2 separate regions of the Homo sapiens genome follow, and region 1 is linked to region 2. Evidence: fine-mapped expression QTL. Tissue or cell type: whole blood. Region 2 holds a variant in brackets; the other region holds the start of a gene. All regions are shown on one strand. Distances are from middle to middle.

Evidence for each region.
Region 1: it holds the start of MB21D2, and the variant in region 2 is fine-mapped to the expression of MB21D2 in whole blood (INTERVAL, PIP 0.98).

Annotation. Positions count from the first base shown.
Region 1 is chr3:192,915,510-192,919,909 of GRCh38, forward strand. MB21D2 (Mab-21 domain containing 2) reads right to left here and starts at 2,347. Exons shown (of 2, transcript NM_178496.4): 1 at 2,121-2,347. The coding sequence starts at 2,331. RefSeq lists an enhancer at 1,313-1,642 and a silencer at 2,293-2,652.
Region 2 is chr3:192,948,532-192,952,931 of GRCh38, forward strand. No RefSeq gene overlaps it. Among named protein-coding and RNA genes, the nearest start is that of MB21D2, 33 kb to the left of the region's middle. The variant CAAATAAATAAAT/C (reference allele first, on the strand shown) is at 1,746.

The DNA.
Region 1 (4,400 bases), 33 kb before region 2:
GAGGGGCAAAAGGCTTAAATGACACTCTCTTGAATCTTCTCTCCTGCAGGTGGAAATGCTAAATTCCCAGGGGGCAAGAAAGACTGCTTGCAAGGTCAACTGGGTAAAAAGGAATAGAAGCAAATCTAGTTTACCTGTCAACACAATGCCACCCATGGCATTAAACACATGCAAAAATTAAGCACCCTAGAATAATTTACTTTTTTATATTTGGATAAAAGCTTTGCTGATTCAGTGTATCAGCTTTGGAGTTAAGCACAGAAGTTCCTCATGAGCCAGGCACTTAAATTTACCCTCCCTACATTATCCCATTTCCTGACCCATGACTACCCTAACTGGTGGTGACCCAGTACCTTCTTCTAGTAAATGACCTACGCAAGTGACATCAGAACTGATCTGGGGGCTGTATTAACACAATGGCAGACTTCCATTATTTATGCCACAGAGAAAGGCTATGATTAACTAAACAACTTAAGTAACTGCGCTCAGCCTTCTGTGTGTGGCCCCACCTTCCTGACAATCACTGTGTTGGCTTTTGGCTTTGTAAGCATTTTAGGCTTCCCTGTGGAAGCTCACTCCTACCAGGTTTTATATATATATATATATATATATTTAATTCATCTATTCATCTACATAGTTGAACGGCTGAATCTCTCAATAGTTTTTCAACCTCATACGCAACGTAAGACACACTTGAAGAGTGCGGCGCAAAAGGTAAAAACCAGCCTAGAGTTTTAACATGTTTCATCTAACTTCCCAACGCGTGAACAACTACCAGCGGACACAGACACGTTCAGTCTGTATTACCCCGTCCTTGGGCAGTGAGGAAGAAGAAAACCTAGAAGGAAGAAGGTATCCCAGGATAGAAGCAGCAACAGCCGGCTGAAACCCAATTAGATTGCAGGAGAAAGAGAAAAGCCCTGTCTTAGTCTGTGGCCAAAAGACCTTTCCCAATCAAATTTTTCAACACCTGGAAAATTGGCTTATCTATTTGTAGAGAGCACCCAGAGACGAGCGTTAGAGCAGCGCTACCCTGGAGTACCAGTTCTTCGGAATGTTGACCGCCGGCCACGCACCGCTTGACAGCCACGGATCCGCTGGCGGAGCCGCAAGTTACAACCCAGGCGCCTGGCAAACTCACACTACACCTCAGTAGCAATAATCCCAACGGCAGGACACCTGGGGAGGGTGGGCTCGGTCTCCCGGGCCTGGCTCAATTATGTTCCTTTACACAGCATTCAATCATGTTTCAGGAGCCGTAGGTGAGGGGCTGGAGGTGGGAGTGGGGGACACATTTTCTAGCCCCCGACGTCTCCGCGGTTGGAAACTCTGGGCACCTCTTTCGGCCAGCGCTAAGACAATACACAAAGAGCAGGGAACCGGCGCTCCTCTGCGGCCAGAGCTCCGCGCCTAGTCACGGAAGAGCTGGGAATTAAGAATTCCGAGCTCAGCGAGAGCCCTGAAGAAGCACCGGAAATGCTTCCGATCGCTTCATAAGAGAAGTCAATTTGCAAATCAAAGTTGCAGGAACTCCGGACGCCTAGACTACTTCAGCGGGTTACTCGGGAACACCCAACAAGTTTGGCCACCGGGGGCTCGGCATGACAGCGCCGCGCCGCGAGACGACAGAAGCAACTTGTCGCTCGGGCGCCAAGCCAGAGCCCTGAGCCGTCTCCGCTCCCAAGCTCGGGAGAGCACCCAAGAGCCGGCGTCGGGAAAGCGGAGGTCCCTGCCTCCGGCAGCCAAATCCCTCAACTGAAGGCACCTCAGGGGCTCACCTGGACTGCACTCGCTTCCAGGGGCTTCCCCCAACAGTGCAACGCTTCACCGCGAACGCCTCACCTGCCTGCCAGCCCCAGGTGGCGGAGAAATTAACAAAAGAGCAAGCGAACAGGGGGAAAGGGAGACCCGGCGTAAAGTATAGTAAGGAGGGGAGGGCAGGCAGCTCGGCTTTCGGCGGAGAAAGAAGAGAGAGGCGGAACAGAGATGGCTTATACCCAAGGCACCGGCTCGGGAAGGCAACCCAGAAGGGAAGAGGTCGAGAAGCGGCAATGGGTTTTCTACTCCGCTTCCCATCACACACACACACGCACACACACCTCCCCCTTTTTCCTCCTTACCCAGCATGGAAAAGATGAAATCCTTGGCTGTGTGAATCTCCAGCGCTCTCTGGTCGTCGTATTCCCGCTGGTCGTGCTTCGTAAATTCTTGGATGAGTTTGTTCAATTCCTCCACCCGAGCTCCCGACCTGAAATCCAGCTCCGGGAACGCAGGCTTGTTGTTACAGCCCAGGGAGGCTGCCTTGTTGGCGGTGGGAGCCGCCATCTTCATGCAAAACGCGCCGAGTAGCAGCTCCGCGGCAGCGCGGCACCCACCCCCGCCCCCCACCCCGCCCCCCTGGGCCTCCTCCCCTCGCAGGCTCCCAGGCTTTGGCCCCGGCTCGTGGGCGGGTTGGCGGGCGGGCGTCTGGGCGGGCAGTCCCCCGCTCCGTGCGCTCTGGGCGTGCGAGCTTCGGGAGGAGCTGGACTGCAGCGAGGGTGCGTGTGTGGCCCCGACACCCTTTTCTCCGGCCCCACGCCCGCCCCGATGCTGCGCGTCCCTGCCCTGCCCTGGCCCTCTCTGGCAGCGGCAACGGCGGTCGTAGAGCCAACTGGAGCCTCCCCCGGGCGAGGAAAGTGAAGTGGAAACAATGTGAAATTCACCAGCTCTGAAATCAACAAGCTGCCGGCTCCGGTGTTACGGAGCCAGCACCAGCGTCTCCATTTAAAGGGACAGCGCACCCAGTGGAAAGGAAAATAAATAAATGACAGAGGTCTGCACGCATATACCACTTGCCAATCCGTACTTGGGAAGACGCGCGAGGTGTGGATGCATTCTTTCTCCACCTCCACGGCCGTCCCCCCATCCCCTTTCTGGGCAGGGTTTGCCAAGCGCATTCAAGGAGAAGAAAGTCTTCCTCCGTTTGATTTTAAGGGCGGTGTCCTGGGGGAGGACATCTCTGTGCGCGTTTACCTCTCTATCCCAAGAACTCCAATACCTTTAAATAGTAAAGGAAACTGCCTTAAGGAATATGAAACCTGTCTTCTACCCTTTTCCTCTTGGATTGCCAAGATGATAGGATTGAGCGTATAAAAAAAGAGGGTCCACATCTAACCCAGTATTGGCACTCCCACTAACCCCTAGATATCCCTACCTTTGCCCAAGGTAATTAATGACCTGAATAACAGCTTATTTATCTTAACATATAATGAGTTAATGAGATTCAACCTACTCTAATATAAAGATAGGGAAACTGAAGTGTGGGTGTGGGAGAGGGGAAACAATGTATTGCCCCAGGTTCCAAGAAATGTTGGATGACAAGATGAAAATTTTCTCATTCAACAGATAAAATTTGAGTACGCACCATTTGCCAGATGGAGTGACAGAATGTGACAGTGATAACCAAAAGACATGGCTCCTACCATGGAGTTAGGCTTACATGACAAGGCAGGTTCAATCTAAGTCATAGTCCTTTAGGCAGAATAGAGTCTCAGAGGTGGTTTTAGTGTTTATGGGGTGTATCATTCAAACACTTAGGAGGCCCATTGGCTGTGAGAAACATAGGTTATCTTCCTCCCTAATTCTCCAAAATCTCTCTTCTCTATCCCACAGTCCCTGATTTAGATCAGGTCTGTTTCACTTTCTTACCCGAGTTCTCATGGCCAAGAATACAAATTGTTTTGTTAGACATGGAAGGAAGTACGGACTCTTCCATGCCTTCCCCTATAAAATGGGAATAATAATTCCTGTCTCACAGGTTGTTTTAAGGATTACGTGAGATAAAACAGGTCAAGCACTTAGTTCAAGGACTGACATAATAAGTACTTAGCTATTATCAGCTTCTACTATTATTGTTATTAATTCTTTCACTGTTCCTCAATCTAGTAACAACTTGTTGCCAGAGTGATCTTTAGAAAACACAGACCTGACCACTGACCTCCCCCTGGAATTCCTCTCTTCTTTACTCCGTTTACACCAAAACCAATCCGCGTCTGCCTTTTTCTTACAGCTTTCCGGAGACCCTCCCCTCAAGCTGGTGGCAACTTTTCCTTCCTCAGAACCTACTCTCAGAAGCTTTCATATGATGCTAATGAATTTTGACCTTGCTTCATCATTGCTTTTTGTTTTGGGTTGTGTGTGTGTGTGTTTGTTTGTTTCTGAAACAGGGTCTTCCTCTGTAGCCCAGGCCAGAGTGCAGTGGCACAATCGTGGCTCACAGCAACCTCAACCTCCTGGGATTAAACAGTCCTTGCATCTAGATCTCTCAAAGGGATTACAGGCGTGAGCCACCACACCTGACCACTTCATCATTGTTAATGCAAGTTTTAGACTAAAAGATTCTTGGGGATGAGGGCTACATC
Region 2 (4,400 bases):
CTTTGTAAAATACATTATTAAGATAATGAAAATACAAGCTATGAACTGGATGATGAAAATAGTTGTGAATCATATTTCTGATGAAGGACTCCGAATATATAAAGAATTCTTAAAACTCAATGGTAAGAAAAACACACTTTTTTAAATGGGCAAATATCTTGAATAGACACTTTGCTAAAGAGGATATAGATGGCAAATAAGCACAGAAAGGGATGTTTAGCATCTCTTTAATGAGCACATGAAGAAGTTCAAATAGAAAAAATGCAAATTAAACCACCATGAGATACTATTAAACACTTTTTAGAAAGGCTGAAATTAGGCCAGGCACGGTGGCTCATGCCTGTAATCCCAGCACTTTAGGAGGCGGAGGTGGGCGGATCACCTGAGGTCAGGAGTTCAAGACCGGCCTGACTAATATGGTGAAGCCCTCTCTCTACTAAAAATACAAAATTAGCCTGGCATGGTGGCACATGCCTGTAATCCCAGCTACTTGAGAGGCTGAGGCAGGATAATCACTTGAACCCGGGAGGTGGAGGTTGCGATGAGCCGAGATCATACCATTGCACTCCAGCTTGGGCAACAAGAGTGAAACTCCATCTCAAAAAAAAAAAAAAAAAAAAAAAAAGGAAGAAAGAAAAAAGGAAAAGAAAGGCTGAAAAGAAAAAAAGAAAACAGTAACTGACAATACCAAGTGCTGATAAGGATGTGGAGGCACTGGAGCTGTAATATTTTGCTGGTGAGAAGTCAAGATACAACCATTCTAGAAAAGGTTGGCAGTTGTAAGGTTAAACAAATGCTTACCATGTGACCCAACAACCTGACTCCTAGGTATTTATCCCCACAAAACAAACACTTACCTTTACACAAAATCTTACATGTAATGCGTATAGCGACTCTATTCATGATCTCCAAAACCTGAGACAGCTCAAATTTCTTTCAACAGATGAATGGATAAATAAATGTGATACATCTGTATTACAGAAAATTACTCAGCAATGTAAAGGAAGAGACTATCGTTCCATGCAGCAGCAAGAATGGAGTTCAAAGACATTATACTGAGTGGAAGAAGTCAGTTCGAAAAGGTTATATACTACAAAATTCCATTTATGTCACATTCTCACAAAGAAAAAGACTATGTGACAGAGACCAGATCACTGAGTTCCAGGGGTTAGCATGGGAGGAAGGTGTGATTACAAATGGGTAAAGCGATGGTACTGATTTGTATACTGATTGTAGTGATGCTTGCATGAATCTACACACGTATTAAAATTCTTAGAACTGTACATCAGGAAAGCCAATTTTATTATATAAAATTTAAAAAAAAATTTAATGAAAGAACTAATAATTATCAAGACCTTGAATCCAGATTCCATTACTTTATAGCTGCGCTATATTGAACCAGGTACTATTTTCCTTAAGCCTCAGTTTTCTCATCACCTAAAATGTGTATAAGAGTATCTACATCGTGGCCGGGCGCAGTGGCTCACGCTTGTAATCCCAGCACTTTGGGAGGCCGAGGAGGGCGGATCATGAGGTCAGGAGATCGAGAACATCCTGGCCAACATGGTGAAACCCTGTCTCTACTAAAATACAAAAAATTAGCAGGGTGTGGTGGCGCGTGCCTGTAGTCCCTGCTACTCAGGAGGCTGAGGCAGGGGAATCACTTCAACCCAGGAGGTGGAGATTGCAGTGAGCCGAGATCGTGCCACTGCACTCCAGCCTGGAGACAGAGCAAGACTCTGTTT[CAAATAAATAAAT/C]AAATAAATAAATAAATAAATAAATAAATAAATAAGAGTATCCACATCTCATAGGGATGTTTGGTGAATTATAGGAGGCCATGTGTATATAGTTGTATGCACAGTGGCATATTAGTGAATACACAATAAATTTACCTGTTAATATGGGGTCATTATTTTCAGAAGAAAAATCTTTAGAGGAGGCTGAATGTTATGGTGATAAGGAACAAAAGCTTTAATAAACAGTCATACTTAGCTTTGAATTGCTTATCATCTTGGACACGTTAATCACTCTCTCTGAACTTTAGTTTCCTAATCCAAGAACAGTGATAGTAATATTCACTTTATTATATTGTGATGAGCATAACCATTAATATACATATAATGTCTGGTACTCAGTGAGTGTTCAATAAACGATAGCTGTAATTATGATTTCGAGTGGTTCAATAAGTAAAATATGATTTCTTCTGACATTTAAAAATTACATTTACAAATATGTAATTCTAAATGATTAATTATGCAACAAAAGAAAGAGCTGACGTTATGCAAATGTTTTCATTTGTACTGGGCTGGCCATTCACACATATTTTCCTATTCATAGCCAAAATAGTAATTGGTTGAAATGAGCACTGTTGCATTTTAATGAGCCCTTAAAAGGGCAAAAAAATTCTTCTAGTATAATACAGAATGGATTTTCCATGACAGTGTGTATTTTTCTATTTTGTTATTTTAATTTGCAAATGGAGTCCACAGGTGTATAAATGACCTTCCTCATTTCATAATGCTTTCCATCTCTCATCTCAAGGATGTGTTTTAAAGTAAATTAAAGTTAGAGCCAAAGCAGCCCAGGGCCGGCTAGAAAGGCCTGGTGGCCTCTATGGGCTAGATGTGTAGAGACAAGCTGAATTTCTCCTGGGTTTATGTTTTTTTTCAGTTTGCTTATCATCATTGTCATCATCATCATCATCATCATCATCATTATCATCAACCAGGCTCTGATTATCCAAGAAAGGCTTTTTGGTTCTATAGCACCTCCGATCATATTGAACATTATTTAAGCTGTTTTTTGCTGTTTCTTTTCATTCATAGATCCATGAAAAGGGAAACTGTTGCTTTAAGATAATAAAGGATGCACATTTTAACAAAGGATACCACTCTGTCAGCCAGATGTGTAAAAACACACCTTCAGCAAAAGACATTTCTCATAAGTTAGATTATCTTTCACTGTGAATTAAAAATGTTCTGAAATGGCTGATACGGTTTTACTGCTGCTTATGAATGGCATTCTAGAGGTTATTGATGGGAATGGAAGAACAGAATACTTGAAGCACAAAGCTGGAAAGGATCTTAGAAATTTAGCCTAATATTGTTATCATATCAAAGACGAAAATGGAAATCTAGAGAAGAAAGTACCAGGCACGTGTTATCCAACAGGCAAGAGGCAGAGTCAAGATGAAAACCCAGGTCTCCTGCCTGCAGGACAGGTTAATTTTCTCTATATCACATCATCTCTTCAACAACATCTCTCTGTTTTTTCTGTTCTACTTTTTAACCCCACGTTCGCAAAGTTTATTTAATTACTTTGGTTCATAGAATACTATCATCATTAATGCATACTGAGACTCTTTCATGTTTTATTATTGTACATTTTTTCTCCACTCATAATTGTCATTCCCAGCCCTTTCTCCCCCTTAGACACTTATTCTACTGTATTTGCTATGTCCTTAAGTATGAAAATGCTGCTTTATCTATGGATTTTTATTTACTTAAATGTACTGTGCTAGACATTTTCATTCAATACTGTGCTTTTAGGTCTGTCCATGTGACTACATGTTAATTTGCTCTGACCATGGCTTAGAATTCCAGACTATTAACTTATCACATTTTACTCATCTATTCCTCTCTGGTGAATACTAGGTAACTTCTATATTTAATACCACAAACAATGCTGCCACAATTAAGTTCTTTTGTTTAAATATGGAGTCTCCTTATGTGGCCTAGGTTGGACTCAAACTCCTGGGCACAAGTGATCCTCCTTCCTCAGCCTCCTGAGTAGCTGGGACTGCAGGTGTGTGCCACTGTGCCTAGCTTTATCTTGTATTTGTCTCTTAGTGAACTCATGGGAGAAATGTTCTGGGTATATCCATTGTTGGGATTGTTGGGTCATAAGGTACAACCATTCCTTTCTTTTCTTTTCTTTTTTTTTTTTTTTTGAGATAGAGTCTTGCTCTGTCGCCCAGGCTGGAGTGCATTGGTGTGATCTCATCTCACTGCAACCTCTGCGTACCTGGTTCAAGTGATTCTCCTGCCTCAGCCTCCTGAATAGCTGGGATTACAGGCACCTGCCACCACTCCTGGCTAATTTTGTGTGTTTTTAGTAGAGACTGGGTTTCGCTGTATTAGCCAGGATGGTCTTGAACTCCTGACCTCATGATCTGCCTGCCTCAGCCTCCCAAAGTGCTGGGATTACAGGCGTGAGCCACCATGCCTGGCCCAGCCAACTGTTCTTAATGTTGCTAAATATTGCCAGATTTCTTTCTACAAAGGCTGTATGTTTTACACTCAAAACCAGCAGCAGGCCGGGCGCGGTGGCTCACGCCTGTAATCCCAGCACTTTGGGAGGCCGAGGCAGGCGAATCATGAGGTCAGGAGATCGAGACCATC